Linked DNA regions of Homo sapiens. The protein of the gene in region 2 purifies or fractionates together with the protein of the main gene of each other region. This does not show direct contact. Each region holds a gene or a part of one and is shown on either strand. Other genes may lie near its edges.

Region 1 (7,795 bases), on a different chromosome or scaffold from region 2:
TTAATGGCAGGACCTTGGCTGCACAGTTTCTTGTGTATACAAATAGAGCAAGGAGGTTTCTGCTGTTGAAAAGTTCTATAGAAATAGAACTAGCAAAGATGGAGATTGCAATTCTCAGAGAAAGAAATCAGGGACAATCCCTTACTCTAATTGTTCAGAAACCTTACCTAGATAATGCCATGTAGTGCAGAGCCCCTTGAGTCAACCAGAAAAGAGAAATTTGATGATGAAAATAATTAAGGCTTCTCCCTGCCTTTAAGAAAAAATCGAAATGCCTGGTTCACAAAGACCACCCTTTCTGACTGAGCTTGGTGTGTCCTTCCAGCCTCACCTCTTCGCCTAGCTCTGGACGCACTGATCTACCTGCAGTGCGGCTTTCACTGTTTCTACAAGGCAGGGGCCACCACAGCACCAGCCTCGTAGAAGCACCTGAGATACCATTTTTTTTTTCTCGAGAGTCCTTTTTGCACTCTCCTTCTCTGTCCTACCCTAAAGGTTTTAGCTCCCGAAAAACCTCGTGTAATACTAGTGCTTAGGACAGTGCCTGGCACTTGTTAGGTACTTTAATAAATACTGAATGGAATGAACACCTTGCTACAGAACAAGAATATTGCTACTATATTCAGTAAGATACATGCACCAGTCAAAAAACCTTTTATAGACTTCAAATTCCAAATGCTGTGAAAGAGAAAAGGAAAAAAAAACACTTAAAACTGTAACAACACATTTCTATCCTATTAGTGTTTATACCCTTATCATAAACAAAAGACTTCAGTAAACTGAGGATATAACAGAGTTGGACTACACACATTAAAAACTTTTTTTTGAGCTGGAATTTCACTCCTGTTGCCCAGGCTGGGGTGCAATGGCGCCATCTCAGCTCACTGCAACCTCTGCCTCCCGGGTTCAAGTGATTCCCCTGCCTCAGCCTCCCAAATAGCCAAGATTATAGGCGCCCACCACCACACCTGGCTTATTTTTGCATTTTTAGTAGAGATGGGGTTTCACCATGTTGGCCAGGCTGGTCTCGAATTCCTGATCTCAGGTGATCTGCCCACCTCAGCCTCCCAAAGTGCTGGGATTACAGGTGTGAGCCACCACGCCTGGCTTAAAACTCTTTAACATATTAAAACATTTTATCTTTAGTTTATAGTTTAAAAGGTGGTTATGTATTCTCTGCAATTTCAATGTATTTGGCAGCGAATATAAATGTTACTTAAAATTCAAGTTAATTATGTTTTACAATACTTTCTCCTAAAGACTTGGTACTGAGTTTTCATATGTGAGAATTAGTTGCCTATGAATTAACAAATTTTTACCTCCTTTATCTGCTATTGTAAGTAAGAATACTCTTAAATATGTATCAACTTCAAACCCTTTATAGAATGAGATTAGGTTATATGTAAATGAATTAAAATTAGTCAAGCCTCCATAATGTCTAGCATACTGCTTAGCTATCTTTTGGTTAATTCTAAAATTTTAAAAGTTTATATATTCTGCTCATCTATTTTAAGACATTGATAAACTTTGATACATTTGTTTATGAAAGCTCTAAAATCTCCAAAGGAATATATTTATGAGTGTGTGTCCTATTATTAATTTTAATAGCTGAGAAAGTTTCTATAAACCTAAATTTTGTCTTTTGCAATGTGCTTTGTTCTTGCACATTCCCTATACAGAGACGGCTACTTACAACAGCCTCAGAAGGCCTCCACACAGGGAGATCTCTGCCCTCAGCTTATTGTCTTTCTGTTACCAGCCAGTTTGTGATCCTTCATTTCTAGCTTCTTTGCCTTTTGTCTCAATTTGTGTTAAATGGATACTTACCTTTTCCAAAATAACTTGCAGGTCTTCAGCACCGGTATAATGTGGATCTAGAATCAGAAACTTTATCTGCCCTGTAATCTCATTCCATGCAACTCCTAGTATTGTGTGGGCCAAAACTCCTCCCCCTATAGAAGAAAAAATAGGAAATACGAATGAAGGCATAAACAAATGTCAAATGCCTATTCAATTTAAATAGACAGATTACGGCCGGGCGTGGTGGCTCACACCTGTAATCCCAGCACTTTGGGAGGTGGGTGGATCACGAGGTCAGGAGATGGAGACCATCCTGGCTAATGCAGTGAAACCCTGTCTCTACTAAAAAAATACAAAAAAAATAGCTGGGCTTGGTGGCAGGCGCCTGTAGTCCCAGCTCCTGCTGAGGCAGGAGAATGGCATGAACCTGGGAGACGGAGCTTGCACTGAGCCGAGATCATGCCACCGCACTCCAGCCTGGGCGACACAGCAAGACTCTCAAAAAAAAAAACAAAAAAAAACAACATTACTTTGCTTATTAACTGATCTAAAATAGCATTAAAATGGACTACCCTACACTATAAAAGACACAATGTCAGATATACTCTGAAAGGATAAAATTACATCTTTAACACAAAAGATACAATCATATCTATAATCACATACAATTTATATTCTACATTCACATCCATATAATTACCTAAAATGGATTTAGAAAGGGCCATAAACTCCTCCCAACAGAGTAACAATCTGCTGTAGTGCCTCTCTCAGCAGATGGTCCTGCTGCCTCTGAGTACCTCCAGTGATATAGCACTCCATTCATTAAGTTTTTTTTTTTTTTTTTTTTTTTGAGCTAGAGTCTCACGTCACCCAGGCTGGAGTGCGATAGCGTGACCTCGGCTCACTGCAACCTCTGCCTTCCAGGTTCAAGCAATTCTCCTGCCTCAGCCTCCTGAGTAGCTGAGACTACAGGCGCACACCAGCACACCCAGCGAATTTTTTGTATTTTTTTTTAGTAGAGACGGGGTTTCACTGTTAGCCAGGATGGTCTCGATCTCCTGACCTCGTGATCGACCCACCTTGGCCTCCCAAAGTGCTGGGATTACAGGCGTGAGCCACTGTGCCCAGTCTTTTTTTTTGAGACAGAGTCTTGCTCTGCTACCCAGGCTGGAGTACAGTGGGCAATCCCGGCTCACTGCAACCTCCACCTCACAGCTCAAGCGATTCTCCTGTTTCAGCATCCCAAGTAGTTGGGATTACAGGTGTGTGCCACCACACCCAGCTAAATTTTGTATTTTTAGTAGAGACAGTGTTTTGCCATGTTGGCCAGGCTGGTCTCGAACTCTTGGCCTCAAGTGATCCGCCCGCCTCAGCCTCCCAAAGTGCTGGATTACAGGCATGAGCCACTGTGCCTGGCTAGAAAATGTATTTTAAAACATAAGCTCATACAATCAGGAGTCAGGCGTGAGCTACTGGGCCCGGCCTACTCATTAAGTTCTTTCTGATATTTTGCTGACATCAGCCTACCTCCATTTCTTTTTTTTTTTTTTTTCTTTTGAGACAGTGTCTCACTTTTGTAACCCAGGCTGGAGAGCAGTGGATCTCTTGGCTCACTGCAGCCTCCTGGGCTCAAGCAATCCTCCCACCTCAGTCTCCTGAATAGCTGGCACTATAGGCTCACACTACCATGCCAGCTAATTTGTGTGTTTTTTTTTTTTTGGTAGAGACGCGGTCTGGCCCATGCTGGTCTTGAATTCCTGGATGCAAGCTATCCTCCTGCCTCAGCCTCCCGAAGTGCTAGGATTACAGGTGTGAGCCACTATGCCCAGCTTCTACCTCCATTTCTTACACACTAGTCTCACCTTGCCTTCTGTCATCACAGGACAGGTCTTGTTCTTCAAAGAATTAAGCATCTTTAGATCAGCTAATCCAATCTTCTTATTTTACAAATAAAATCCACAGAGGTAAGTAATTGCAAAATCTCACAAAGCCAGCCCAGTTATGACAGAGTCATGACTTACGAAGCTCAGCTGAGTGACCGTTTCCTCTTTTTAATACTGTTCTCAGCTCTTTAAATGTTTGAACATAGCTACCATTTCTCAGCCTTTACTTCTTCTGGTTATTATAATCTTTTTTGTAACCTTTAAGCCACCTTAGAAATTTTTTTCAATATCCAGAGATCCATACATATGGTGTAAAAGTTAATTTCAAAATTTTTTAAATGACTGATTTTATGCAACATTAAATATTTATATCAATGATAAGTTTTGCATATTACTCACTCTACCAAAAACAGTGTCTGAAACAGCTTACCGATCATAACTGGAGTTCCTTCACTTTGGAAATGATTAGCCAGTTCCCGTCCTTGAGAGGCAATTTCTGAACCTTGGCTAGAAAGAAACCATTTTCTATCAGATGAACTACTTCCAACACTACGGTCAAATAATGAGCTAGGAGACAATGTTTCCTACTTTCTTGTTTTTTCGGGTGTTACTGAAAAAATATATAAATGTAAAAAAATTAAGTGTTAGGGAACTGAGAGCAATTAAACTGTGCAATTTAAAGCAACATAAACTCAAAATACTTAAGGCCACCAAGTGTGCTAGATAAGACGCTAAAAGACCTTGATTTTCTGCTTCTTGAACTGTATAAAGGAGGCCTGGGTTTTTAACATGAAGTTAAAACATCACCTTGGTGCTCAGGGAGTTCTTATGGATGGATTAATCAGAAGAATGAGTGTTAAGTCCTGGGTTCTTGCCTTCTTGCTGGTAGACTTCTTAGTCTGTATTTCCTCATCTTTAAATTGGGACCCAAAACGCTGACCTGTCTACATAACAGAGGAGAGTCTAGGCCTAAAATACATGTCTGTGAAATCAATGTGAAAACTGCAAAATGTTTTCAAGTGCAACATACTATTTTTAGGGAATCTCAGAATTTTTACTTTTGAAAAGAGAAAGATAGATGGGATAATGAAGGGAGGTATTTTTTGGGGGAAGGTGCCCGGTGGTGCTAAACCTTAGCTCTTGCTTAATGAGGAACGTATGTTTTAATGTACCAAAACTGTAACTTTTAAAAAAAGTTCTTCACTACTTAAGTCTGTCATTGTTTTATATTATTATTATTTTTTGAGATGGAGGCTCGCTCTGTTGCCCAGGCTGGAGTGGAGTGGCGCGATCTCAGCTCACTGCAACCTCCGCCTCTCAGGTTCAAGCGATTCTCCTTCCTCAGCCTCCTGAGTAGCTGGGATTACAGACGTGTGCCACCATGCCCGGCTCATTTTTATATTTTTAGTAGAGACAGGGTTTCACCATGTTGGCCAGGCTGGTGTCAAACTGCCAACCTCAGGTGATCCACCCACCTTGGCCTCCCAAAGTGCTGGGATTACAGGCGTGAGCCACTGTGCCCAGCCAGTCTGTCATTTTTTTACCACTGATTTCCATAACCACTGAGGAAAGGATAAAATTACATCTTTAACACATAAAAGATACAATGAGGACGATGTTACTGTAATTAACAATAGAAAATGTATTTTATTTGTTTTTTGGCTTTTCTTTTTTTTTTTTTTTTTTTTTAGAAAATGTATTTTTCTGTTTTTTTTTTTTGAAAGGGAGTCTCGCTTTGTTGCCTGTGCTGGAGTGCAGTGGCATGATCTTGGCTCACTGCAACCTCCACCTCCTGGGTTCAAGCGATTCTCCTGCCTCAGCCTCCCAAGTAGCTGGGATTACAGGCATGCGCCACCATACCCAGCTAATTTTTTTTGTATTTTTAGTAGAGACAGGGTTTTGCTCTGCTGGCCAGGCTGGTCTCAAACTCCTGACCTCAGGGGATCCACCCACCTCGGCCTCCCAAAGTGCTACGATTACAGGCGTGAGCCACTGCACCTGGCTAGAAAATGTATTTTAAAACATAAGCTCATACAATCAGGAGTCAGCTAGTTATGGTCATAGAAAATAATTAATTTATATTTTCTCATTTTAATATTAGAATTATGGTTAAGATCATTGGAAAAGACAAAATGAATACATTATTTGAACACATTACTAGATTATTAACGTTTTAGAAAGAAAAAGAGCAGGAGGTAAACAAAAAGGTCAGTCATAGTTCAACATTTGAGTTTTGCCTTTTAAGACTTTTTAAAAGATTGGAGCATAAAGAAACTGTTAATATAATTTTTATGACTTTACTCAACGTTAATATATTTTTAAGTTTTCCTCTTCTAGGCTAAAATTAGGCCTAAATAATACAAGTATACATTACATCACAAAGTTTATTCATAAAATCAGAGCCTTCCAAAAAAAAATGAAAAAAAATTAAGATTAAAAAATGAGATTTATAAAGCAATGAGTAATAAGGAAGAAGGAAAAGGAATAAAAAGAAATAAGGGAAGATACCATTTTTTCTATTATTTTAATTAAAATGACAGACTGTCACTTTGAAATGATTTATCTAATTTCTTAAAGTGTGCTTACCTGACAAACAGGATTTTTGACGTTATACCGATCAATTGGTTTAGTACCAGCTGCACCTCAATAGATCCAATCCATTGCCGCGATCCGACAAATGTTGCTGGTTTGTCCCCGGCATCGACTAGAGCCTTGATGTATTTAAAAATATAAAACATCCATACACAAGACAGCTATTAAAAACGATGTTTAGGGCATTTTCCCTGATTACCAGTACAAGAATTTTTTTTTCTTCAAAACAGAAATAAGTCTGCACCATGAGGTAACAAAAATTATCAATGGTATATTAAGGGCTAATGAAACATACAGTTGATTATAATTTAAAACGGTATGTTCTGTACCTGCTGAATTTCTCTGTGTGTTGGAATGGACCTCTCTGTGTATCCCTGATGTTTGAACCAAGAGCAGATAGTCTGCAGAGATCGATAAGCACAGCCCCAGCCATTGTCATCTATGCGATCCTGCATATAATGATGATAGCCATATATGCCCTGGACCACATAAATCTATATACAGAGAAGAAACACAGTAAAATATTAACTTAGGATAGAAGTACATATTCTATATATGCTCCCGAATTATGTTTAATGTTCTTAGAGTTAGACTGTTACTTTAGTTCCTTATAAAAATGCCTTCACAGATCTATGGTTTAACATTATACCTTCTTGGCTTTTTATTTGAGGTTCAAAGTCCTTACCACAGGGCCCAGCAGGACCTACCTTCTGGCCTCCTCTCCAATTTCATCTCCTAAACTTTTCCCTATTGCTCCCTCTACTTTCGGTTCCCATATACCAGGGGCAATATGACCTTGGAGCCTCATGGTTCTCTTGGCCTGGAACTCTCTTTTCCCAAATTAATTGTACAGCTTGCACTCTTACTTCACTCAGGTTTCCATTTAGATGTCAAAGGTCTTCCTTGACCATCCAGTCTACAAACGGCCCACTCATTCTCTCACTACCCCACCCCCTGCCTCACCTGTCATCTCTGTCCTCTTTATGTTTTTATTTTTCAAAGTATATCATGACTTGATATACTTTAAATGATACATTACTTATCATTTAAAAAATATCTGCCTACTTACACTAATATGTGAGCTCAGTGAGTACATACACTGTGTCTTATCCATTTTTGGGCCCAAGCTTCTACAACACGCCTGGCACACGGTTAATATAAATGCTGCTGAATAAATGCTGAATGAATGAAGGAAGGAATAAAGGAATGAACAAACAAATGAAGGGTCCATATCATGGGACACAGGAAGAATGTGTCTAAATTTATAAACCTGCTATGATTACAGCCCAAGTATGTTATTTGATGACGCTAAGTTAAGGGTCAAAAAATAAAGATAAATAAATTACTAATATCATATAAATTCTTACTTATAGTGCTAAGAATGTATATGTCTTTTTTTATTAAAGAACTGGGTTTTTGTTTTTATTTTTTTGAGATTGGGTCACACTATGTTGCTCAGGTTGGTCTTGAACTTCTAGGCTCAAGTGATCCTCCTGCCTCAGCCTCCTGAGTAGCTGGGA
Region 2 (7,575 bases):
ATAAAAGTTATTTCTTTTTGTACAGATGGGATCTCGCTATGCTGCCCAGGCTGATCTTGAACTCCTGGCCTCAAGCCATCCTCTGGCCTTGGCCTTCCAAAGTTCTGAGATTACAGGCAAGAGCCACTATCCCTGACCTAAAAGTTCATTTCTTTGGGGTGTCACTTGGCTTTCCAATTGTAGAGAGGTGCAAGGGCTAAACAAGTAATGAAAAAGATGCCTAGAAGGGCTCTTGTGATAAAAATGGGTTTGTTGCAATTCTTATTAGAGAAAACTGAAATAGTGTAACTACAAAGTGACGCAGCAACCTCCTGGCTGCCCATTCTAATGATATGAAGTTTGAATCTTGATTCCACTGGGGCTTTTGCCTTAGTAATGGACATAAAAGCTAACGTGATAAGAGAGTGTTACAGTGAGTTTCATACTGCAGCAATCTTCTTCAGTATTAATTGCTTATCAGTGTTCTATTTCCTCCTATTCTTAGAAATGACCACCATTTCTTTCATACCACCATTTTCATTTATTAGCAATAACAGAGGAAATACCAATAGCACCAATTCAAAATGAATCCACATGACGTGTTTTATCCTTACAGCTGTAATAACTAGTAACTAACATGGATTGGAAAGCACTTCGCAAATGTAAAAAGTGCTGTACAGATACATTATAATTATCATCATTAATAAATTAGCCCGATTCTCCTAGTTCAAAAGGCACGTAAGGTCAGATACATGGGCTTCAGTGGGGCAAAATGATCACAACCTACAATGTAGCAATGGTTCACATGTGTTGGTAACAAGTTTTACCCCATGCAATCCTGCAGAGCTGAAGTTACACACCCTTCAAAATATGGGAGAATGAAGCTAAAAGTAGACAAGACAGTTTTTTTTTAAATTTAATGCTTTTTTTAAATAACAGACTCCTACCTCTTTTATATTAATGCCTAAATAGATAATATAATTAATCAAACTTCTAAATTGTACATTATAACAAAATTAAAATGTCTTATTTAAGGTGACAGCAAATTTTGTTACTTTCTATGAGCTGATATTTCAGATACCATTAGAATTTCAAAGCATTCTGCAACTTCAAAGAGGTCAGATTGGTAAAATTTGTGCTTGCACACCCTCATGGAATATTGTCAGTATTCATTCCAAAATTGTTACTAGAACAAAACAGCTTTATCCATTCCCTTGCCAGCAGAAGTCTTGGCACGAGATGGCTCTTGGCTGGACCATAAATAAAATTCCTTGAATCACCAGTATCTTGATTTAAGAAAGAAATTTTACTGTGTCTTTCATACACAAAAGCTGATTAACAATGGTTAAAAAAACACTACTCCACTTTTTCACAGGTGTACAAAAGGAAATATAATGGAATTACATTCAACAATAAAGCTTAAAGTTCACTCTAGGTAATAGTTGCATTAACATTCACATACACAAGCACAGAGTAAGTATATTTCAGGAGTCTTAGCATAGCATACAGCATACATATGGGAGATTGATTTCAGGTAACATCATAGGTGTTAGTAAGATTAGCAATTCAGAGTGTTATAGAAAAGGAAAACTAAACCAAAGAGAAGGTGTAGGCTAGCACACCAAGACAAGTCACAGAATTAGTAGATTGAAAAATCTGCTCACTGTATGAGAAAACAATATTTTTCTTCAATTTTTGGGTCTTGATATATAGTTGGTTAGAGAAGGTTGTGTATCAAAGTGCACATAATTGTTTCTTAGAAAAGAGAGAGAGAGAGAGAAAGAGAGATCATTTTATTTAGTAATACATGCAAGAGGCAGCCCCAGAGTGACCTGAAAGAGTAAAGCTGTGATTGGCAGGTGGCCGATATAATACAGATGTTTCAGGCAATTCTCTTAAAGCACTTCTGTAGCAGCAATGATCATTTAAATGGCTGTAGACTGAATTCTCTTTTGAGGAGAGTTTAGGGGAATTGTATTCATATTTCTCTTTAAAGATTTATAGCTATAGACTTTCTCTTTTTTTAAATAAATCTATGAAACAACAAACAGCGAAAGGTGAGGTGTCGGGGTTTTCTTTTGCTTTTGCATAAGTATTGGAAAAGGATCTGGCCTTTTCATAAACATTGTGTGCAAAAGAATTTTTAATAAAGTGAGCACAGGACATGTATAGGAAACACATCAGATCTGCTTCTGTTTCCCAGGGTGGTTCTCTGTTAAAACACTGAACTGTTGGCTTGCAGGTATGATGCAGATTTTAGGTATAATGACGTCACAGCCAACAGACTTTAGGGTCTCCTAAAGCCTTGTCAGTGGGGGTAGTTTTGTCTCCTAGAGGGTGGCTGCCACCTCTTGAGTTGTAAGATTTAGAAAGTCTGGTCCCTTTAAGTTTACACTTCCCCTCCATACTGATAACTTCCGCTGTTTATTTGTCTTTGTTTTCTTGCCTTCCTTGTACCAATTAGTCTAAGCTGGCTCGTCTCAGCCAATATCTGGCACTCGCATACCCGCGGTAGCCACACATACCCAGTGGCCACAAACTCCCAAGCTGCTCAATCTCAAAACTTTTCAGCCTGCCCTGCAAGTGTCATCAAGACAGGATCCCCGGAGCACAGGGCAGAGAGTCCAACCTCTCACTGGCGGGGCTGGGAAGCCTCTCCTTTGCGGCGGAGGAGAAAGGAAACTTGGGTCTGCTTTTTAGGTTCTGAAAACAAGCCAGAGTGGAGAGAAAGAGTTAACACCAGACTTAGTAAAGCTTTTACGACAAAACCTGTTAAATGCGTTCTAGACAGACACAGGGAACTTTCTGCAGATTTCTGAGGTCTCTAAGAGGGCTCATGTAGATAGGAAAAAGGAGCAGGGAATTGCTACATGGGAGAGATTTGCCATTATTACAAAAACTGGCTAAGTGGCTTGTTTCCATTTGAGGACCTCACTGGTCACTGTTGTCAGTCGTGCTGTTCCCTTTCTCTTTTTTCTCCTGGGTCTTGTTACCCTTCTTCTTTTTCTTCTTTTTCTTGGTCTCCTCCTTTTTGCCGAAGGTTATGAAGTCACTTTTGTCAATTTGGCTGTTAGTAGGCTCCTGCCGGATGGAGATGATTGCAGGAGATCCTGGGATAATGAATTTGTCGGGCAACTCACCGGGACCGGATTGTTTGGGGTTGCCTGGTCCGTATTTAAAGGTCCAGCTGTTGCTGTTGACACCCGCACCGACTGGAGGGGACACTTCTCCTGCCTCTGGTTCTGAAAGACAAAACATTACAAATCATTAACAGGGTCAACACATGCTCTTGATGCCACACTGCTGGTAGAGTACAGGAGTACTGCATAGGCAGGCTGAACCTCCCCAGAAAAATCACGAGTTGTTTGTTCAAGTCTGAGGGCAAGGCAAGTGTTTACTTATTTATTTATTTGTTTAATTTTTTTGAGACAGGATTTCCCTCTGTCACCCAGGCTGAAATGCAGTCACTGCAGCCTCGACCTCCTGTGCTCAATCAATCCTCCCATCTTAGCCTCCCAAGTAGCTGGAACTACAGGCACAAGCTCCCATGCCAGGCTAGCTTTTTAAAAAAAATTTTATAGAAATGGGATCTCACTATGTTGCCCAGGCTGGTCTCAAACACTGAAGCTCAAGAGATCCTCCCACCTTGGCCTCCCAAAGTGTTGGAATCATAGACATGAGCTACCACACCCAGCCAAGGCCAGTATTTACAGACAAGCAAGAGGGCAGGTTTTTTCACCAGGATACCAAGAATCTAGTTTCATAGTAACATATGTTTGGTTCTTTGTGAAGAATTTCCTAAAGAATACAGTTGTGATTATCTTGACTGGGAACGGGATGGGAAATACAGAGCCTAAAGGCAAAATATGCTCCTTTTAGTGTCTAGATTAAACTTTGGCTATAAATGTATTAGGATGTCTATTTTGTCCAAAACAAGAAAAATTAGCTGAATAAATTATTTGATCTTAATTTTATTGTAATAACATTGAAGGGTGGTGGGATGCAGCATGGAAGAGATGGGAATACACAGCGTAAGAGGATGGAATCCTGTTGTAAATTGAGCCTATTTGTTTAGATAAAACACTGGGAGCCAATTTTACTTTCCAAGCCAAATTCCTTCCCTCAGTGTGCTCACAGTCTAGTTGGACATACACTCAAGCAACTAGAAACCAACTTAATACATGCAATAACTAAAGTATATGTAAAGTATTGTGGGACTCCAGAAGAAGAAATTGTTAATTATACTTGAGAAAGTTAATGGGGTTCCAGAGGAGGTGAAATCTGCCCTGAGTCTTGGGAAAATGATTATGCATCCACAGGAGTTTTCAATAAAAGACATTCCCAAGAGTCTGATTGGAAGACACACCATAAAGTATACCAGTGACTTCTAGAAGAGTAGAAGTCAGAGCTGGAGAGGAAGGGTAATGGTCTGTCTGGGCAAAGTGATCCCAGTGGCCATGACATTGGAACTCTGACATCATAGCAATGTTTATGTATCTAACACTGCTCCTTTGGTTGACACGTGAAAAGCTCCATCAAATAAACTGTTTATGTTCAATTACAGTTTAGGGTTGGGTACAACTGCTATTTCAATTTCCTATTACTTCTCAGTCTCCTCTAATTTGGTGTCCCTGAGCAGTAATTTTCTAACATAACTCATGTCAAGTTCATTATATTACTTCCACAATCAATGGTCACATTTTAGTCCTCATCTTATCAAACCTCTCAGCAGCATTTGTCATCCCCTTCTTGAAACACTTATTCTCATGAGTTCTTTGTCATGTAGAATAACCCCAATAAGTTCTTAGATGGACTGGACCCCTGTTACAAAAGGCAGATTAACAAGAAAAAAAAGGAAACAGAAGTTTATTAACATGTACATTTCATATATACATGACAGACACCCAGAGAATGAGCAGTTCTCAAAAAGGTGGCTTAGAATTCCAGCTTATATAGCATCTTCAACAAAGAACAATAAATTTTTAAAGAAGTGTAAGACAAAGGAAAAGACCTTTAAGGACTTTGAGTCTCTAATGGGTAGCTACTTGGGGGAAGGCAAATGAATGGCAGATAAAGGCTAATTTGTAAAGCAGTACCATTTCCAGGCCAATAAGAGTCCAAAGTTATCTTCAGTGGTTAACCTTTGTTCTCCCTGGTGGTGGGAGGCAGAGGAGGGAGGTGGAAGTAGGATAACTTTTGTCTTTGTAAATTTATGGTTTTTTAGGCAAATACAGGGAGGGCAGAAGACCTCTCCTATATCTGCTTCTTTTATTATTATCATGATTATTATTTTTTAAATTTGAGATAGAGCCTTGCTCTGTTGCCCAAGCTGGAGTGCAGTGGCGAGATATCAGCTCACTGCAGTCTCTGCCTCCTAGGTCCAAGTAATTCTCGTGCCTCAGCCTCCTGAGTAGCTGGGACTACAGGCACATGCCACCATGCCTGGCTAATTTTTTTTTTTTTTTTTTTTTTTGTATTTTAGTAGAGATGGTGTTCCATCATGTTGCCCAGGCTGGTCTCGAACTCCTGAGCTCAGGCAATCTGTCCACTTTAGCCTCCCAAAATGCTAAGATTACAGGCATGAGCCCACTGCACCCAGCCTGTATCTGCTTCTTTTAACTTGCCTTCAGCTCAACAATCCTTCTTATTTTGGGACAGCATATTCTGGCCCCCACCATCAAAACATTCTCCTGACCTTTCTCTCTGACTGTTCTTTGACAGTTTCCTTTGTCAGTCTCCTCATCTGTGTGTTGAAGCTTCCTTGGGTTTGGCCCTAGACTCTCTTCTCTATTTTCTCTTCACTCTCTCCTTTTGGGATCTCAGCCATATCCATAGATATAAATACCATATGAATAAGCTGATGAGATGCAGACTTATATTTTAAGCCCACATCTCTCTGTGCTCCAATCTCATGTATAACTGCCTATCTGGTATCCCCAGTTGGAAATCTCATGGGCATCCCAAACTGAAGAAATCTGAAATCAAACTCTTGATTCCTCGAATCTATTCCTTTCTAAATCTTTCCAGTTTCAGTAAATTACACCCCATTTACCCCATTTCTCAAGCCAGAAAGTTCAAAGCTAATTATTCATTTTTCTCTATTCTATTCTTCATTCTCCATTTATAATACATCATCAAGACCTGTCATTTCTGCCTCCTAAATATATCTTGACTCTGTCCTCTTCTCCCAATTTTCACTGCCACCACTCTTTCAGGACACCATCATCTCTTATATGAATTGCAGCAATAGTCTCCTTATTCAGTCTGCTTCCACTTTTGCTTCTCTCCAACCCTCCACACAGTAGCCAGAGTCATCTTTATTTCTTAATGTCTCTCTTTAAAAACTGATGTATAACAGCCAGGCGCGGTGGCTCACACATGTAATCCCAGCACTTTGGGAGGCCGAGACAGGCAGATCTCGAGGTCAGGAGATTGAGACCATCCTGGCTAACACAGTGAAACCGCGTCTCTACTAAAAAATAGAAAAAACTTAGCCGGGCGTGGTGGTGGGCGCCTATAGTCCCAGCTACTCAGGAGGCTGAGGCAGGAGAATGGCATGAACCCGGGAAGTGGAGCTTGCAGTGAGCTGAGATCGTGCCACTGCAGTCCAGCCTGGGCAACAGAGCAAGACTCCATCTAAAAATAAAAAATTTAAAAAAAAATGAGGCATAACATACATATAGCAAACTCTTTTAAAAATATAAATCAGATTATATCACTCCTCTGCTTAAGCTTTCTACTGCCTTGAGAAAAAAAAAAAAAACTCCTTACCATGATACATAAGTCCCTTCAATAATCTGATTTTTATTTCTTCTCCACTCTCATCTACAAATCTCCCTCTTACTATTATACTCCAACCATACAGGCCTTCTTTCAGATCCTCAAACACTCTTTGGAATTGTTTTTTTATTGTTGTTTGTTAGAGATAGGTTCTCACTCTGTCAACCAGGCTGAAGTGCAGTGGTGCAATCATTGCTTGATGTAACCTCAAACTCCTGGACTCAATCGACCCTCCTGTCTCAGCCTCCCAAGTGGCTGGGACTACAGGCCACCATACCTGGCTCCTTGGAGTTGTTTTTGCCTCAGGATCTTTACACATCTGGTTTGCTTTTGTCTTGAATGATTTCTCATCCATTCTTTTTTTTTTTTTTTTTTTTTTTTTTTTTTGAGACGGAGTTTCGCTCTGTCGCCCAGGCTGGAGTGCAGTGGCGCGATCTCGACTCACTGCAAGCTCCGCCTCCCGGGTTCACGCCATTCTCCTGCCTCAGCCTCCTGTGTAGCTGGGACTACAGGCACGCGCCACCATGCCCGGCTAATTTTTGTATTTTTAGTAGAGACGGGGTTTCACCGTGTTAGCCAGGATGGTCTCGATCTCCTGACCTCATGATCCGCCCGTCTCGGCCTCCCAAAGTGCTGGGATTACAGGCGTGAGCCTCTCATCCATTCTTAGCATGACTCCTCACTCTTCAAGTCTGTATTAAATGTAACCTCCTTGGAAAGGCATTCTATGACATTCCTAGCCAAGCAGCACCCCCTTGGCCTATTATTCTCTACCACTGTAAGATTCACAAAGGCAAAAAATGTATCTGTTTATTC
Region 3 (7,795 bases), on a different chromosome or scaffold from region 2:
CTGCAGTCCCAGCTACTAGCGAGGCTGTGGCGGGAGGATCCCGTGAGCCCAGGAGTTCGAGGTTACAGTGAGCAGTGACTGCACCACTACATTCCAGCCTGGGCGACAGAGCAAGACCTTCCCTCAAACAAAAAAAAAAAAAAAAAAGATGTCACAGGAGATTCTAACTTAATGGAGAACATGGCCAGGCGCGGTGGCTCACACATGTAATCCCAGCACTTTGGGAGGCCAAGGTGGGCGGATCACCTGAGGTCAGGAGTTCAAGACCAGTCTGGCCAACATGGTGAAACCCTATCTCTACTAAAAATACAAACAACAACAACAAAAAATTAGCTGGGCGTGGTGGTGGGCACCTGTAATCCCAGCTACTCGAGAGGCTAAGGTAGGAGAATCACTTGAACCCGGGAGGCAGAGGTTGCAGTGAGCTGAGATCGCACCACTGTACTCCAGCCTGGGGAACAGAGTGAGAAACTGTCTCAAAAAAAAACCACAAAAACAAAAACAAAAAACTTAATGGAGAACAGAAAATGAGACAAACTAAATGTAAAGGTCAGTCTCATTCAGATGCATGTGGACTGAAAGTTAAGAAGATTAAAAAAACAAAGCCATGTCAGGTAGGAGGATTTTTATTTGATTTTGGTGGGAAAGCAAAAAAGAGGTGAGCCCCACAAGAGAACACAGGACTTACAGGTTCCAGAGAAGAAGTTGTCAGGGAACAAAGTAGAAACTTAAATGTTTTTACAATTAAAAGCAAACACACACCAGGTTAGGTCTCCAACTTGTGAGTTCCATGAAGTTCTGACGAAGCACAGAAGCTGGGGTGTAAAGTCAGTGGGGTTAGCAGGGACTGTCTACCTAGCTGAAAAGCCGGCTCCTCGATTCTTACCATCTTTGTCAACAGTAAAGGGCACGTCTGGAGTGATGATTTCGTAGCTGCAAATCTGGCTGAACTGAGGGGAGCAGTCGGCATCCACGGCCTCCACCCTCAAAATGCTGTCGTACTGCTTCCCCTCGATGACCGTGGCTTTGTAGGACTTCTCCTTGAACACGGGCGCGTACTCATTCACGTCGTTCACCTGAATATGAACAGTTGCTCTGGACAAAGGGAGGGAGAAAAATATTTTTCTGCTTGTTTTCAGTGTGAGAGAGAGACAGAGAGTGTGTATGTGTGTTTACCCAATTCTGCCCTACTTTAAAATTTCCTGTTTCTGATACCTTGTTTCATGAAATTCATATGATGAAGTCAAAAATTAAACAAGCTATTCACTGCTTTTCATTCAAGTGTGGAGATAACAGAAAGTTAAAAGAGGGATTTGGGTCGATTCTTCCATATCCTAAGAATAAAGCAAAAAACCAATCATCTAAAATAAAAGAGACTTGGGTGTTTTTTTTTGACAATATGGGACAAGACAGGCAGAAGGGAGATAAACAATACCAGACGTCTGTTTGCTCTCCAATTATAAAGTTGAAACATATTTTGTAGCAAAATCCAGAAAAAAAATAGAGCCAAGGGAAGAAGGGGTATGAAACAGAGAAAGCATGAAATGGTTTGATTCTGAGAGTTCAAACGAATTCTGTCCTACTTCTAGGGAATAGGCTGGAGTCCATGGCATCACCTGGTCCTGATTCAACAAATGGAAGAGTTCAGGAGAGGCAGGCCGTTGCCACCTGCCAATACCCCAGCTCAGTTATCAAGAAAATTAGGGTGTCATCAGACCTGGCTACAAATAAAAAAAACTGTAGGTTTCAAGGGCTAATGGTCAGGGCATGCTTCTGAATCAGTCAAGGACTTTGGTCAAAATCTGACCTTTTCAAGGGAAACAATAACATTACACTGTGGAAAAAGAGAAGAGACTCACTGGGGCACTGCACCTTCTGCTCACCATGAGCCTCCTCATCCCAGTGCCATCGGTCTGACCCTCACAATGGGTTATGTGACACCATCTCGCCCACATACCCTTCTTTAGTAGATGTGCTAAGTAGAAACTGAGACTCAGGGCCGGGTGTGGTGGCTCACACCTATCCCAGCACTTTGGGAGGCTGAGGCAGGAGGGTCACCAGAGGTCAGAGTTAAAGACCATCCTGGCCAACATGGTGAAACTCCGTCTCTACCAAAAATACAAAAATTAGCCAGGTGTGGTGGAGCGTGCCTGTAATCCCAGCTGCTTGGGAGGCTGAGGCACGAGAATCGCTTGAACCCTGGAGGTGGAGGTTGCAGTGAGCCGAGATTGTGCCACCGCACTCCAGCCTGGGTGACAGAGCGAGACTCTGCCTCAAAAAATAAGTAAATAAATAAATAAATAAAACAAAAGAAAAAGAAACAGACTCAACAAAATTAAATTTGCACAATGCCAAAGGGCTAGCAAGTGGTGGAGAAAAGACTAGAGCTCTAGAAAAGACTAGAGCTTACAATCTAATTGTAGAAGACACTGGACTTGAGAACACCAGCAGTCCCCAGCCTTTTTGGCACCAAGGACTGATTTCATGGAAGGCAATTTCTCCACAGATGGGGGTGGGAGGATGGTTTTGGGATGAAAATGCCCCACCTCAGATCATCAGGCAGTCGATTCTCATAAGGAGCGCACAACCTAGATCCCTGGCATGCTCAGTTCACAACAGGGTTCGCGCTCCTGTGAGAATCTGATACCGCTGCTGATGTGACAGGAGGTGGAGCTCGGGCAGAAATGCTCACTCGCTCACATGCTGTTGACCTCCTGCTGTGTGGCCTGGTTCCTAACAGGCCACGGACCAGTACTGGCCCACGTCCTGAGGTATGGCGACCCCTGTTCTATGTTGTCTTGTCCAAAGCCCTCTCTGCTACAACTGCAGTTCCTAACTGGCAGGAGGTGCAGCAACACACTCAGGATTGTGGCAGCGAGCCAGCCTACTTCCACCAGCAGTGACTAATTTTTTTTTTTTTTTGAGACGGAGTTTCATTCTTTTTGCCCAGGCTGGAGTGCAATGATGTGATCTTGGCTCAGTGCAACCTCCACCTCCCAGGTTCAAGTGATTCTCCTGCCTCAGCCTCCCGAGAAGCAGGGACTACAGGCGCGTGCCACCATGCCTGGTTAATTTTGTATTTTTAGTAGAGACAGGGTTTCTCCATGTTGGCCAGGCTGGTCATGAACTCCTGACCTCAGGTGAAAATCACCTCAGGTGATCTGCCTGCCTCGGCCTCCCAAAGTGCTGGGATTACAGGCGTGAGCCACCGTGCCTGGCCAATTTTTGTTGTTATTGTTTTTTAGGGACAGGGTCTCATTCTGACACTCAGACTGGAGTACAGTGGCACAATCATGGCTCACTGCAGCCTCAACCTCTCGGGCTCAAGCAATCCTCCCGCCTTAGCCTCCCAAGTAGCTGAGACCACAGGCATGTGCCACCATACCTGGCTGTTTATGTTTTGTAGAGATGGCATCTCCTACATTGTCTAGGCTGCTCTCAAACTCCTAGGCTCAAGCAATCTTCCCACCTCAGCCTCCCAAAGTGCTGGGATTATAGGTGTGAGCCACTGCACCTGGCCAACAATGATTAAGTTTATGCCCTTAGGAATTACAGCAAAAGATAAATATGACAACAAAATAACCTTCCTAAGGGAGAAGCAGACTTTTTCAATTTTTAATGTAGGGCCTTTACTTCTTTAATAGAGTATTTGGTGTGATAAAATTATTCACTCATTCATTTATTAAAAACCTAGGCCGGGTGTGGTGGCTCACGCCTGTAATCCTAGCACTTTGGGAGGCCGAGGCAGGTGAATGATGGGGTCAGGAGTTTGATACCAGCCTGGCCAACATGGTGAAACCCGTCTCTACTAAAAATACAAAAATTAGCCAGGCGTGGTGGCAGGCACCTGTAATCCCAGCTACTCGGGAGGCTGAGGCAGAAAAATCACTTGAAACCGGAAGGCGGAGGTTCCAATGAGCCAAGATCGTGCCACTACACTCCAGCTTGGGTGAAACAGCGAAACTCCATCTCAAAAACAAAACACAAAAAGGCCAGGTACGGCTCACGCCTATAATCCCAGCACTTTAGGAGGCCCAGGCAGGCGGATCACCTGAGGTCGGGAGTTTGAGACCAGCCTGACCAACATGGAGAATCCCCATCTCTACTAAAAATACAAAATTAGCTGAGCGTGGTGGCGCATGCCTGTAATCCCAGCTATGTGGGAGGTTGAGGCAGGAGAATCGCTTGAACCCAGGAGGCGGAGGTTGCGGCGAGCCAAGATCATGCCATTGCACTCCAGCCTGGGCAACAAGAGCAAAACTCCATCTCAAAAAACAAACAAAAACAACCCCAAAAAACCTAATATGCCTAATGTGAGCAAGGCTCTTGCTAGAAACTGTATACAAGGGTAGAGAGACATGATTCCTGCCCTCCAAGTGTTTACAATCTAATTGTAGACACTTGAGAACTATCTTCTGCCTATTTCAAAAACAGTCTTGGGGAGCAGGCAATAGTCACTACTATTTTCGTTCTGCGCACACACGTTTACTCGGTGGGTTATGTTCACTCTTTGTCCAGCTTACTTACTTATGAGACTTTTTCACGTTGGTGCCATCAGGTCCCTTCCCACAATCATAGGCCTGGATGGTGAATGAATAGTCTTTCTGCAGCTCACAGTCCAGTTTCTCTTTGGAGCGAATGACTCCCTCACCAGTGGATTTATCCACTACCACTGCATCAAAGGGGACATTCTGCCCGTGAATTTTAAATCCACAAATCTCACCTAGGGAGTCAAAGCAGAACAGGTAAGAATTCCTACCACATAGATCTTCTGCACCTTGCCCTCCTCCCCCCATCTCCACCCCCAAAGAAAATAAATGACAACAATTTGGCAGCCAGGGGTTTGGAGGGTCCGTGGACAAAGCAGGGGCACTGTGTTTTAAACATGGGGAAGTTCTCGGGCTTTAGTAAGATGAAGCAGATTCTGGCTTTCCAAGCAACTTGTTTACTTTGCATCCATTCATGCAGGAATACAAAAGAGAGAGAGAAGAAAATATAGACAGGCATTCCACAGGAGCACTTAGATAGCTCGAGGGTAAAAGGAGTCTCATTAGCACACAGCCAGGCCTGAGAACACCAGCGCTGCCCCAGCTCCTGGGAGGGCTGGCAGCCAGTTTGATTTGGACCAGAGAGAAGCTAAAACGCAGTTATGTGTTGAGAGAGGAGGAAGCGTGAGATATAGGATCAGCACCGTAATTACAGAAATTCTGTCAAAAAAAAAAATCAAAGGAAACAAGTCTTCCTGTGCAATGAGCCTGGCTAAAATTAGGGAATCAAAACAAACTACTCAATGAGAAAGGTAGAAATACCGACTCGTCAGGCATCCATTTCAACAGCTATTTTATCATCTACGATTCAGACACAGTTTCTATTATGGGAGGGACTGGCTAGACTTGCCTTTGTTTCGGACTTTATCCTATCAAACCTGAAAAAGACACCAGCCTGGGAACTTCTCTACATCTAAATTGGCTCACAACTTAATTAGGAGTTAAAAATCTATGTTTCCATTCTTGTCCATGGGAGAACAGTATAAATGTTTTGATGTCGATGTGAAACTCCACAAAATGTATTTCACATGAAAATAAGACTGCACTCCTTCCACAATTCCAACTAATAGAAAATTGTTATAAAGCAAATCTCTGAAGTTCTATTAAACAAAAATGTACAGTGTTATCCATACAGTTCAAATGGATGTCTGATTTCCAGATATTTCTAACCAAGGGTCTGGTTACATACAATTTCCATCAATATACTTTAAAATAGAAACAAAGTAGGAGAATAAATAAGGATAAAAGAGCATGACAGTTTCTCCTGTTTAAGGGCTGATTCCCAATTTTATAAACAAAGTTAGTGGGTTAATATTCATAAGAGGGGAAGAAAGAACCCTTTATCACCTTCTTTGGTGACTGTCACCTCAAAACTCTCTAAAGGGAGAAAAGATAAGCCCATGTCAGTAATACAGGAAAGAATGAAGATGGAATACACTAAGGAAAAAAGTCAAAGGTGCACATATTACACATTTCCACACCAAGCTCAGCGACCGGCTTCTACGATTGCTACAGCAAAACCTAATCTTCAGGAACAAAATGTCACTTTGAATCCAACTTACCATGAACTACTGCATAATTCTGAAGTTATTAATTTAGGGATGAAATACTCCTACATGAAGTGTCCTAACACCCTCAGGGGTCATTAGGATTTTTCTTTTTTTTGAGACAGAGTCTCGCTCTGTCACCCAGGCTGGAATGCAGTGGTGCTATCTCGGCTCACTGCAAGCTCCGCCTCCTGGGTTCACCATTCTCCTGCCTCAGCCTCCCGAGTAGCTGGGACTACAGGCGCCCGCCACCACGCCCGGATAATTTTTTGTATTTTTAGTAGAGACAGGGTATCACCATGTTAGCCAGGATGGTCTCGATCTCCTGACCTCGTGATCCGCCCACCTCGGCCTCCCAAAGTGCTGGGATTACAGGAGTGAGCCCCCGTGCCCGGCAGGATTTTTCTTTTAATGAACACTCTAGTGACAAACCATGAATAAGTACATCTATTTGTTATTTTGCAGTTTTCAGATGTTCATTTCCAACCTAAATTCTCTCAGCTAGATTCTGGTAACATTCAACTCATCAGTAGATTTAATGAAACAAAAATTTGGAGCAAAAGGTTTTTTTTTTTTTTTGAGATGGAGTCTTGCTCAGTCGCCCAGACTGGAGTGCAGTGGCGTGATCTCGGCTCACTGCAAGCTCCGCCTCCCTGGTTCACGCCATTCTCCTACCTCAGCCTCCCGAGTAGCTGGGACTACAGGCGCCCGCCACCACGCCCAGTTAATTTTTTGTATTTTTAGTAGAGACAGGGTTTCACCATGTTAGCCAGGATGGTCTCGATCTCCTGACCTCATGATCCACCCGCCTCGGCCTCCCAAAGTGCTGGGATTACAGGCGTGAGCCACCGCACCCAGCCGAACAAAAGGTTTTAACCCTTTGTTCTTGAACTGAAAAAAATGACAATATTTTTCTAATCCAAAGTACCCAACCAAGGCAACAAATATAAACCCCTCTGCTAATGGAACATCTGCTTAAATGTGAATAGAAACCAGATTCAAAACTAACTGTAGGGATGCTACAACAGTCACTGTTCTCATTACATGAAAGCTCTGTTCTACCAAGTCAATATATATCCTGCTTATAAACCCTTTACTATGGAGGAGTGGAAATGTGAAGAGATCAGGAATTTCGCTGCCCCTCAACACACTGGGCCCTCACTGGTGGCACCTTCTCTCCCCCAAAGGTAACACGACCTGAATTCCCTTGCTTTGCTAATAGTGCTACCATTTATTCTCCCTGAACAGTGTTGTTTCATTTTGCTTGGTTTTAAGGTTTTAAAAATGGTATCACATGGCATGCAGTTTTTTGTTTGTTTGTTTTGGGGGGGGGTGGGAACGGAGTTTCACTCTTGTTGCCCAGGATGGAGTAACAAGATCTCGGCTCACTGCAACCTCTGCCTCCCGGGTTCAAGCGATTCTCCTGCCTCAGCTTCCTCAGTAGCTGGGATTACAGGCATGCACCACCATGCCTGGCTAATTTTGTATTTTTAGTAGAGATGGGGTTTCTCTGTGTTGGTCAGGCTGGTCTCGAACTCCTGGCATCAGGTGATCCGCCCGCCTCGGCCTCCCAAAGTGCTGGGATTACAGGCGTGAGCCACTGCGCCCAGCCCACGTGCAGTTTTTATGACTTGCTTCTTTTTCTTTTTTTGAGACAGAGTCTCACTCTGTTGCCCAGGCTGGAGTACAGTGGTAGCATCT
Region 4 (7,270 bases), on a different chromosome or scaffold from region 2:
ATAGGCCCCTGATCCTCCTGTTTGCTTTGAGAAATGAGTAGTAGGTGTCAGATTTCAGCCTTCCTTCCACACAGGTATTATATGCCCAAACACATCTTCCCACCTGCCTGGCTGTTCCCTCCCTCCAGCATCGGCTTAAAACTGACCAACAGGCCTGGCCCATTCTTGTGTTCCGTTCCCTAGCCTTTGGTTGCAAACTGCCAGAGTCATGCCACTTGGACTCCTTTCTGAAGGTTCTGCAGAAGCGAGCTAGTGTGACCAACATTCTGTCTCAGGGGCTTGTCTGGGTTTAGCCCCCAAGACCCTGAATTTGGACGGCACCCAGCACAGCACCTCACCCATCACATGGGTTCAGCAAATGCCAGCCCTTCTCACTGTCGTCTTAGTTCCTTCCTCGTCTTTATGCATACTGGCTTCTCATTTGGGTTTTACTTCTCATTTCTGGCATTCACTCCTGCAAAATCTTACCATCTGGCCTCCCAAAGTAGTGTGCCAAGGCTTCCCCGTGACCTCACCGCAGCCTCACACCTGGCCCGGAGCGGCATGCCTCTTCAGGCAGGTGGTGCACAGGTGAGATCATCACACGTGGGCATCACTCAACCTGCATCTCAAATGAAGCCACGTCAGAAGATTCCAGGGGCAAGGAAAACAGCCACATTCCAGGAAAGGCATTTTCATTTTATTTAAAAATTATTTACAATTTATTAAGCCTTCATAAATGCTTTATTTTAAAATCTTTTTTTTAAACTTTTTTTTTAACCTGAAGAAAATCTTTGTGGGGTGGGGGTATATAGGGAGGGGAGTGGTGACAGGCTCCATAGGGATTTTGCAAAGGGATGGGTGTAATGCAACAGCAGTGGCTTGAGCCTGGTGGCCTCAGGTGATGAAGACCAGCCAGGCAGGCACCCCGGGGCCAGTGGTCAGCTGGGCAAGAAGCCTGCATGATGGTAGTTCTTGTTCAAAACTCACCATTTATTGGTTTGGGTCTAAGTACCCAACATTGAGGGCTGACACTTCGCCTGTTCCTACCAGGCAAGAGCAGGTGTTGGGACTGGATGACTGTGAAGTTATCTACGAGAAGTCATGCACTGCTGAGCCTCAGGCCAGGCCAGGCAAGGGGTGTGGTGAAGTCAATAATCATTGCTGGAAAAGGCTTCTCTAGCTCCAAAGTCTTTACTTCCACACGCTGTGGCCCTCCTGTCTGCAACACCTGCTCTGGGTTGTTGGGGAAGAGGGGACAAAGTTATGTGGGGGTGTTGGTTGTACAATACTCTAGGGTGTGCCGAGAATTTCTGAGGACTTCCACTTCTTGGTGGGTGCCAGCCTTCCCCATCAATTGATGGACATTTGAAAAGACCACTTATGATTAAAAACCTGTCTCGAACTGCCCAGTATCCACTTCACTCTGCATTGCAGAAACGCTGGGCTGAAAGTTCCACTATTTAAAATAGTAGTGTTTTTTTTTGTTTGTCTGTTTGTTTTAACTCTTTGTAGGTCTGAGACCTTTGAGAACCTTATGAAAGCTTTAATGCTCTGGAAAAAACATACAAGAATAAATACATTAAATACTGACAGTTTTAGGGGTTTCATAGACCCTCTGAAGTCCAACTATGGACCCCCTGGGGTGATGGACCCCAAGTTAAGAACCCCTGAGTTAACAGTTCCTGTGGGTAAGCATTTTCTTTTGAGATGCAGATAACCCAGAGGAATGATCAGTCTCCCTCCTGCCTGTGAATGACTCAATGGGTGTGGGGAGGTGGGAGGGAGGGTTTTGGAGGAAGGGGAGGGAAGCTGGATGGTATACTACGGGGAAAGGTTTGGGAATGGTTTGGAGATTTAGCAGACAGCACTCGATCAATGAGTTCAGTGAGTACTTGACTGAGAACATCTAAAGAGTAGGAGACAGATCAGAAAGGGAGATAGTTATTCTGAAGACAAATTTCACTTACTTCCAAGTTTTCCCTAAGGCTGGCTGTGGTTGCTTTTCTTTTCTTTTCTCTTTCTTTCTTTCTTTTTTTTTTTTGCGGGGGGAGACAGAGTCTCGCTCTGTTGCCTAGGATGAAGTGCAGTGGTGTGATCTCAGCTCACTGCAACCTCTGCCTCCCAGGTTCAAGCGATTCTCCTGCCTCAGCCTCCCGAGTAGCTGGGACTACATGCCCAGGAGAGATGGGGTTTCACCATGTTGGCCAGGCTGGTCTCAAACTCCTGACTTCAAGTGATCCACCCGCCTCGGTCTTCCAAACTGTTGGGATTACAGGTGTGAGCCACCGCGCCCGGCTTTGCGGTTGCTTTTCAGAACTGTTTTATTCTTGGAAGCAGGTATGCGCGGTCACTCTGCCATCTGGTGGTTATGCTTGGAATTGCACCTGCCCCAACTTCAGGAGAAAAACCAGAGATCCAGTAAGTTCTTGGAATAAAGTACACTCAGCTGATCTGCTAGGGTGTAGTAAGGGGGTGGGAGAAGGACAAATGCATGAAAAAGAAGAATGATTCTTCAACATTCCTGTGTAACTCCCACTGAAGTCCCATGAGATTATGTATCTTTCTTGGCTGACCTGGGCACTCTTTGGTTTGTCATGGCTAAACTTGCTTTCAGCACTTACAGTTTTTCCATGTAAGTTTTGTTTGTTTTTTGCTTTGATTTGCACTTAAGACCTGAAGTTCCATCTCTGGCTCCCAGTTGGGTCTCTCTGCTCCCTGTTCCTTCTCTTCCAGAGCAGAATTATTGATCGATTGAAGACTGCTGATTGGGAGCCAAAACAGATGTGTCCCTGGTAAAAACAGTGACTTGAGGTTCCATCTCACATTCTTTCCATTCCAGCTGAGACATACTGCCCCAGGCTGCTGGAACCCTTATCTAACAGGAAACCAGTCACTAACAGTTTTCTGTGCTGTAATGTCAATCACGCGCCAACATGGCTGAGTCCCACTTCTTTAAAGCTCTGGGGGAAATTCTTGGTCCATCCCCTGAACTAATCTTCAGACCTCCTACTCCAGCCTCCCATGTGCCTGTCTGCCAATGGCACCTTCTGAGCCAAGCTATGCATGAAATGTGTTAGAAAGTTAACATTTTGTTCTGGAGGAAAGAATGGCAAGTTCCAAGACGATAGGTCTCCTATGGCATCAGGGGACCCAAAGAACAAAGAAGAGCATCAGGGGTCCCAGAGTGGCATTGTCAGCTTGCAGTCAGACATCTCTTTTCCAGTCCCAGACTATGCTGTGGAAAAGACCATTTCTAGCATGTTCTATCAGAGGCACCTCCTTCTGTTATGGCCATGTCAAGGTTCTGAGTCGAACTGGAGGTAACGAGGGAAAATCTGCCAAACTGACAGCTAGGGGTGAAGAGATGGAAGGGAAGGCAGAACATTCTGTCACCTGTGGGAGGCCTTGGGGGAAGCAGATGATGGGAGGGTGGATTCTCCCCCAAAGCTCTGGAATTTCACACACCCAGTGAATGCTGGCTTTGCCCTGTCATGTGATCAGAGGTGTTAAATTGGAGTTGTCCTCAGAGGTTCTCTCTCCTTCTGGTGACCTCTTCCTTTTTTGGCCACCTGAAAAAAACAAGTTGCAAGTATCAGCCTGTAACACTGGAGGAACATTCATAATTGCTTGGCAGTCTGAGTTCTTTTCAAAACAGAAGCAGAAATGGAGACAAAGCCCTTGACAGCTTGGTTAGAACTAACCGGCATTGTATGCTGGTGCTGATATTGGCATATTTACATCTTGAAAGATTAGGACGTACTTTCCACATAAGATGCCATCTCTGAAAAGTCACAAACCCAGGCTGGTGCCTGGAATTGAGACTTCCTGGAGGGGACTGAGTAAAGCCCATGTAACACCTCAGGCCCATGCCTCCTGCGCCCCTTGGGGGCCAGCCCCTCTGACTGCCAGACACCCTCAGAGAGGACCAATCTCATAGACTTTGATGTCCCATGAATCAGGGTTGGTGGCTGTAGCTGCAAGCCATTTCCAGGGACCTGCGTTCTCTAGCTCTGAAGCAACCTCCCTTCTGCAGTGGGGCAGGTGGGCATAATTACATAGTTGTCCTCAAGGATGAGAGAGCAATCTGTTCCCAGGTCTGTTTTTAGGAAGGAATATCTTCACCTTGTTCTCTCCACCATTGACTTCCATCTGTGGAGGAGATTGCTCTCTTTCTATTGAGTCTCCTGGACACCAATTCTTTAAAGGACTAGACAGAAAATATTAGAGGCCTGTGGGCCATATGGTCTCTGTCACAATTACTCGACTCTGACATTGTTGCCATAGATAACAAATGGATCTGTCTGTGATCCAATAAGTCCTTACTTACAAAAACAAGTAAAGGAGGGAGGTCAGAATTGACCTGTGGGCATGGTGTGCAGACTTCTGTCCTAGAGGACAAACAACTGAATGGGACAGATCCCAAAACTATCAAGGGTGCAGTGCTGGCCCAACCCCTTCTGCGGATTTCCACAATTGTACCTCATTAGGGTTTCTAAGAGGAGTCCATGGCTCCTCCCCCAAGAGGAAGATGCTAACATGCTTTTCCTACTAACCATCAGCAGGGTGGCTCTCATTTGGGTGAAGAACTAGCTACTCACTCAAGGTTCTCAGCAGCTTCTTGCCCACGTTTTCCTCAAAATCGCTACTGCAGGGGCTGGTCTCTGTATCCAGGTTGATGTTACAACATTCACTATCTGATGCTGAGAAAGGAAAGGAGAGAACTCAAGTTGTCTCAACCTACACACTCAGGCATCAAGAGAGGGTGATTCTGAGTGATGACATCCCTCAGCAAGTGAAGTTTAAGACGTGAGCCAAGGTGAGGGTGGTGTAACAAGGCAGGGACGCCCAGGGAAGTACAGGGTGTCATTAGTTAGCAAGAGGCATTTTAGTGCCACAAAAGGAACAAAAAGATGGAGAACAGGAGCCGGAATCCAACGATCCATGCAAAGTCAGAAATCATTCCCTCTTCTCAAACACTGTTTGGCAAGAGAGAGGGTTTAGAGAACAATGTGTTCTCCACCCAGTCTATTTGCCAGACTAAAAGCACACGTGAGGATAGGTGGAGGTCTCCTTGGTATATTTGCACAAACCCTGGAAAGCCACAGGGTTCAACAACAATGCCCCTGTCTTCTCCCGCAGGACTCAATGGGAATTCAAAGAGTTACAGAATCTGAGAGCCCAGAAGGGGCCAAGCCTTACCACCAATGCAAATAAAAACCTAAGGCAGAGCGGTGTGTTGGAAATGGCACTGCACTGAAGCCATGAGGCTGAGCCTGCTTCTGATGCAGTTTTTGGACTTGAGCAAGTTATTTCCCTTCTCTAGGCCTCCAGGGTCCTCAAATGTCACAGGACGAGGGTGGACTAGATGATCTCCAAGACCACTCCATCGCCTTCATTCTTATTCCTTTGTTACATTTTCTTGCTATGTGCTTTAGCTACTAGATTTGGTGTTGGGGGCAGAAAAGGAACATCAGTTCTAAATTCAGGTCCTGGAACAGTGACTATGTATGTCCCAGATTTTCTGGGTCAGCCACAAGTTCAAACATATTGTCTTGTTGACTTTAAATTTTTTTTTTTTTTTTTTTTTTTGAGATGGAATCTCACTCTGTCACCCAGGCTAGAGTGCAATGGCGCCATCTCGCCTCACTGCAACCTCAGCTTCCCAGGTTCAAGCGATTCTCCTGCCTCAGCCTTCCGAGTAGCTGGGATTACAGGCACCCACCACCACACCCGGCTAATTTTTGTTTTTTTTAGTAGAGACAGGGTTTCACCATGTTGGTCAGACTGGTCTCGAACCCCTAGCCTTAGGTGATCCGCCTGCCTGGGCCTCCCAAAGTGCTGGGATTACAGGCATGAGCCACCGTGCCCGGCCAACTTTAAAAATCTTGGAGCACTTTTTCAGGTTGTTGCTCTGGACTTGAGAGGTCTTATACTATGGACTGAAGTAGGTCTGACAGGTCGGGTGGGGGAACTGCTGGCTTGGGTGCAGGCATAGGGGGCTACTGAAAGCTTGGGGAATACATCTTAGTGAGGCAAACACAGAAGCTTCTCAAGACTGCTGGGACCCTGGGAGCTCAGAGCAACACCACTGTCAAGGCAGAAGTGTTCAGTGTCTCAGAGGGAGGTGATATGGTCTTAGACCTCAGGAAAAGTCTTATAGGCTACACCTTTGGTCAAAACCACAGCTAGTTAGAATGATGGCTGACATCAGTTTCCTAATCTGTAAGGTAGGCCTAATAATAGCTATGTAACATTTATAAAGCATGGTACTGAACACTGTAATATGCCTTTTATGTATGTTATCTCATTTATACTCAAAGCTACTTTATAAGATAGCTGTCATAATTTATACCTATTAACATAAGGATACTTATCCATTCAGATAAAAAAAACTGAGTCTTAGGTTCAATAACTTGCCTAAAATTGCATAACTCCTAAACGAAGGAGCCAGGGTCTGAATCCAGGCAGAAACCCAACTCCTAATACTGCCCTACACAGTTTTCCTAGGAGAATGAATCAGACAGGGCCTGATGCATGGTAGATGCTCAGTAAATGTTTCCTTTCCCTGGCTGTGTAAGGAGGTCGGAGGTTTAACGCACGGGCTGCGGTCCCAGGGCTCCCCTCAGCCAGCTTTCCCTGGGCCATCCCAGTGCCCAAAGGCAATGATCTCCCTTGCTGCACTGGGCCCAGCTGGCCTCCCTGACCTGCTCTCGTGGGAACGGCTGCAGGAGACAGCGTGAGCTGCTGTGTGCTGTGCTCCTCGAAGTCAGTCATTTCTTCCTGGGTGAAGGCCAGCTCCTCCATCCTCAGGTACACTACCTCGCTGGGGCTTCTCAGCCCGTCTGAGCGGCTGCCTGGGGAGGACAGTGAGTGCATCACCTCTCTGCTTTGGAGAAGACCCAGGGCTCAGGTGGTGTGAGCCCTGGGAAGGGCTAGAAGAGGAAGGCAGGGTCATCCTCACCCCACACCAGCCCAGCCTGCCCGTCTGCCCAGCTGACTTACACGGCAGGCTGTTCCTGTTGTTGAGGAGCGTGATGGCGGGGTCATCCTTAGGGGTCTGGGGTGTGCCCCGGGTTGTGGGGGCCTTAGTGGAGTCCCCGTCTGTGAAGGCCTCCATGTCAGGGGACTGAGGTGAGCTGTCCATGTGGCAGGCAGTGAGTGCGTTCTGATATTGCTGCCGTGTGATCTGGAAGGAAGAGGGCAGGAGCTTAGGAGCAGCTAGGCAGAGACCACCCGGATGCAGCCAGCCTTCCCAGGCTCGGGGGCAGCCTCGCTGGGGTGCTTGGAA

The links.
Region 1: the proteins of PCDHA4 (region 2) and UFSP2 purify together in Homo sapiens (affinity purification with mass spectrometry; 2 studies listed by BioGRID and IntAct, with this or other methods). This does not show direct contact.
Region 3: the proteins of PCDHA4 (region 2) and CLSTN1 purify together in Homo sapiens (affinity purification with mass spectrometry; 2 studies listed by BioGRID and IntAct, with this or other methods). This does not show direct contact.
Region 4: the proteins of PCDHA4 (region 2) and CNNM1 purify together in Homo sapiens (affinity purification with mass spectrometry; 2 studies listed by BioGRID and IntAct, with this or other methods). This does not show direct contact.

What each region holds. Positions count from the first base shown.
Region 1 is NC_000004.12:185,401,667-185,409,461, forward strand, and holds part of UFSP2 (ufm1-specific protease 2), read right to left. Parts: exon of another isoform or gene 6,770-7,795; coding exon 6,605-6,769; intron 6,395-6,604; coding exon 6,270-6,394; intron 4,294-6,269; exon of another isoform or gene 4,191-4,293; coding exon 4,114-4,190; intron 1,953-4,113; coding exon 1,828-1,952; intron 1-1,827. UniProt on the Homo sapiens protein: Thiol-dependent isopeptidase that specifically cleaves UFM1, a ubiquitin-like modifier protein, from conjugated proteins, such as CD274/PD-L1, CYB5R3, DDRGK1, MRE11, RPL26/uL24, TRIP4 and RPL26/uL24.
Region 2 is NC_000005.10:141,005,273-141,012,847, reverse strand, and holds the end of PCDHA4 (protocadherin alpha-4 isoform 1 precursor), read right to left. Parts: intron 3,222-7,575; coding exon 2,911-3,221; 3' UTR 501-2,910; downstream 1-500. Other genes in the region: PCDHAC2 (protocadherin alpha-C2 isoform 1 precursor), read right to left, coding at 2,911-3,221; PCDHAC1 (protocadherin alpha-C1 isoform 1 precursor), read right to left, coding at 2,911-3,221; PCDHA13 (protocadherin alpha-13 isoform 1 precursor), read right to left, coding at 2,911-3,221; PCDHA12 (protocadherin alpha-12 isoform 1 precursor), read right to left, coding at 2,911-3,221; PCDHA11 (protocadherin alpha-11 isoform 1 precursor), read right to left, coding at 2,911-3,221; PCDHA10 (protocadherin alpha-10 isoform 1 precursor), read right to left, coding at 2,911-3,221; PCDHA9 (protocadherin alpha-9 isoform 1 precursor), read right to left, coding at 2,911-3,221; PCDHA8 (protocadherin alpha-8 isoform 1 precursor), read right to left, coding at 2,911-3,221; PCDHA7 (protocadherin alpha-7 isoform 1 precursor), read right to left, coding at 2,911-3,221; PCDHA6 (protocadherin alpha-6 isoform 1 precursor), read right to left, coding at 2,911-3,221; and 4 more. UniProt on the Homo sapiens protein: Calcium-dependent cell-adhesion protein involved in cells self-recognition and non-self discrimination. Thereby, it is involved in the establishment and maintenance of specific neuronal connections in the brain.
Region 3 is NC_000001.11:9,750,587-9,758,381, forward strand, and holds part of CLSTN1 (calsyntenin-1 isoform 1 precursor), read right to left. Parts: intron 5,925-7,795; coding exon 5,895-5,924; intron 4,724-5,894; coding exon 4,528-4,723; intron 1,096-4,527; coding exon 887-1,095; intron 1-886. UniProt on the Homo sapiens protein: Postsynaptic adhesion molecule that binds to presynaptic neurexins to mediate both excitatory and inhibitory synapse formation.
Region 4 is NC_000010.11:99,387,718-99,394,987, reverse strand, and holds the end of CNNM1 (metal transporter CNNM1), read right to left. Parts: intron 7,169-7,270; coding exon 6,985-7,168; intron 6,837-6,984; coding exon 6,687-6,836; intron 4,683-6,686; coding exon 4,581-4,682; intron 3,552-4,580; coding exon 3,472-3,551; 3' UTR 658-3,471; downstream 1-657. UniProt on the Homo sapiens protein: Probable metal transporter.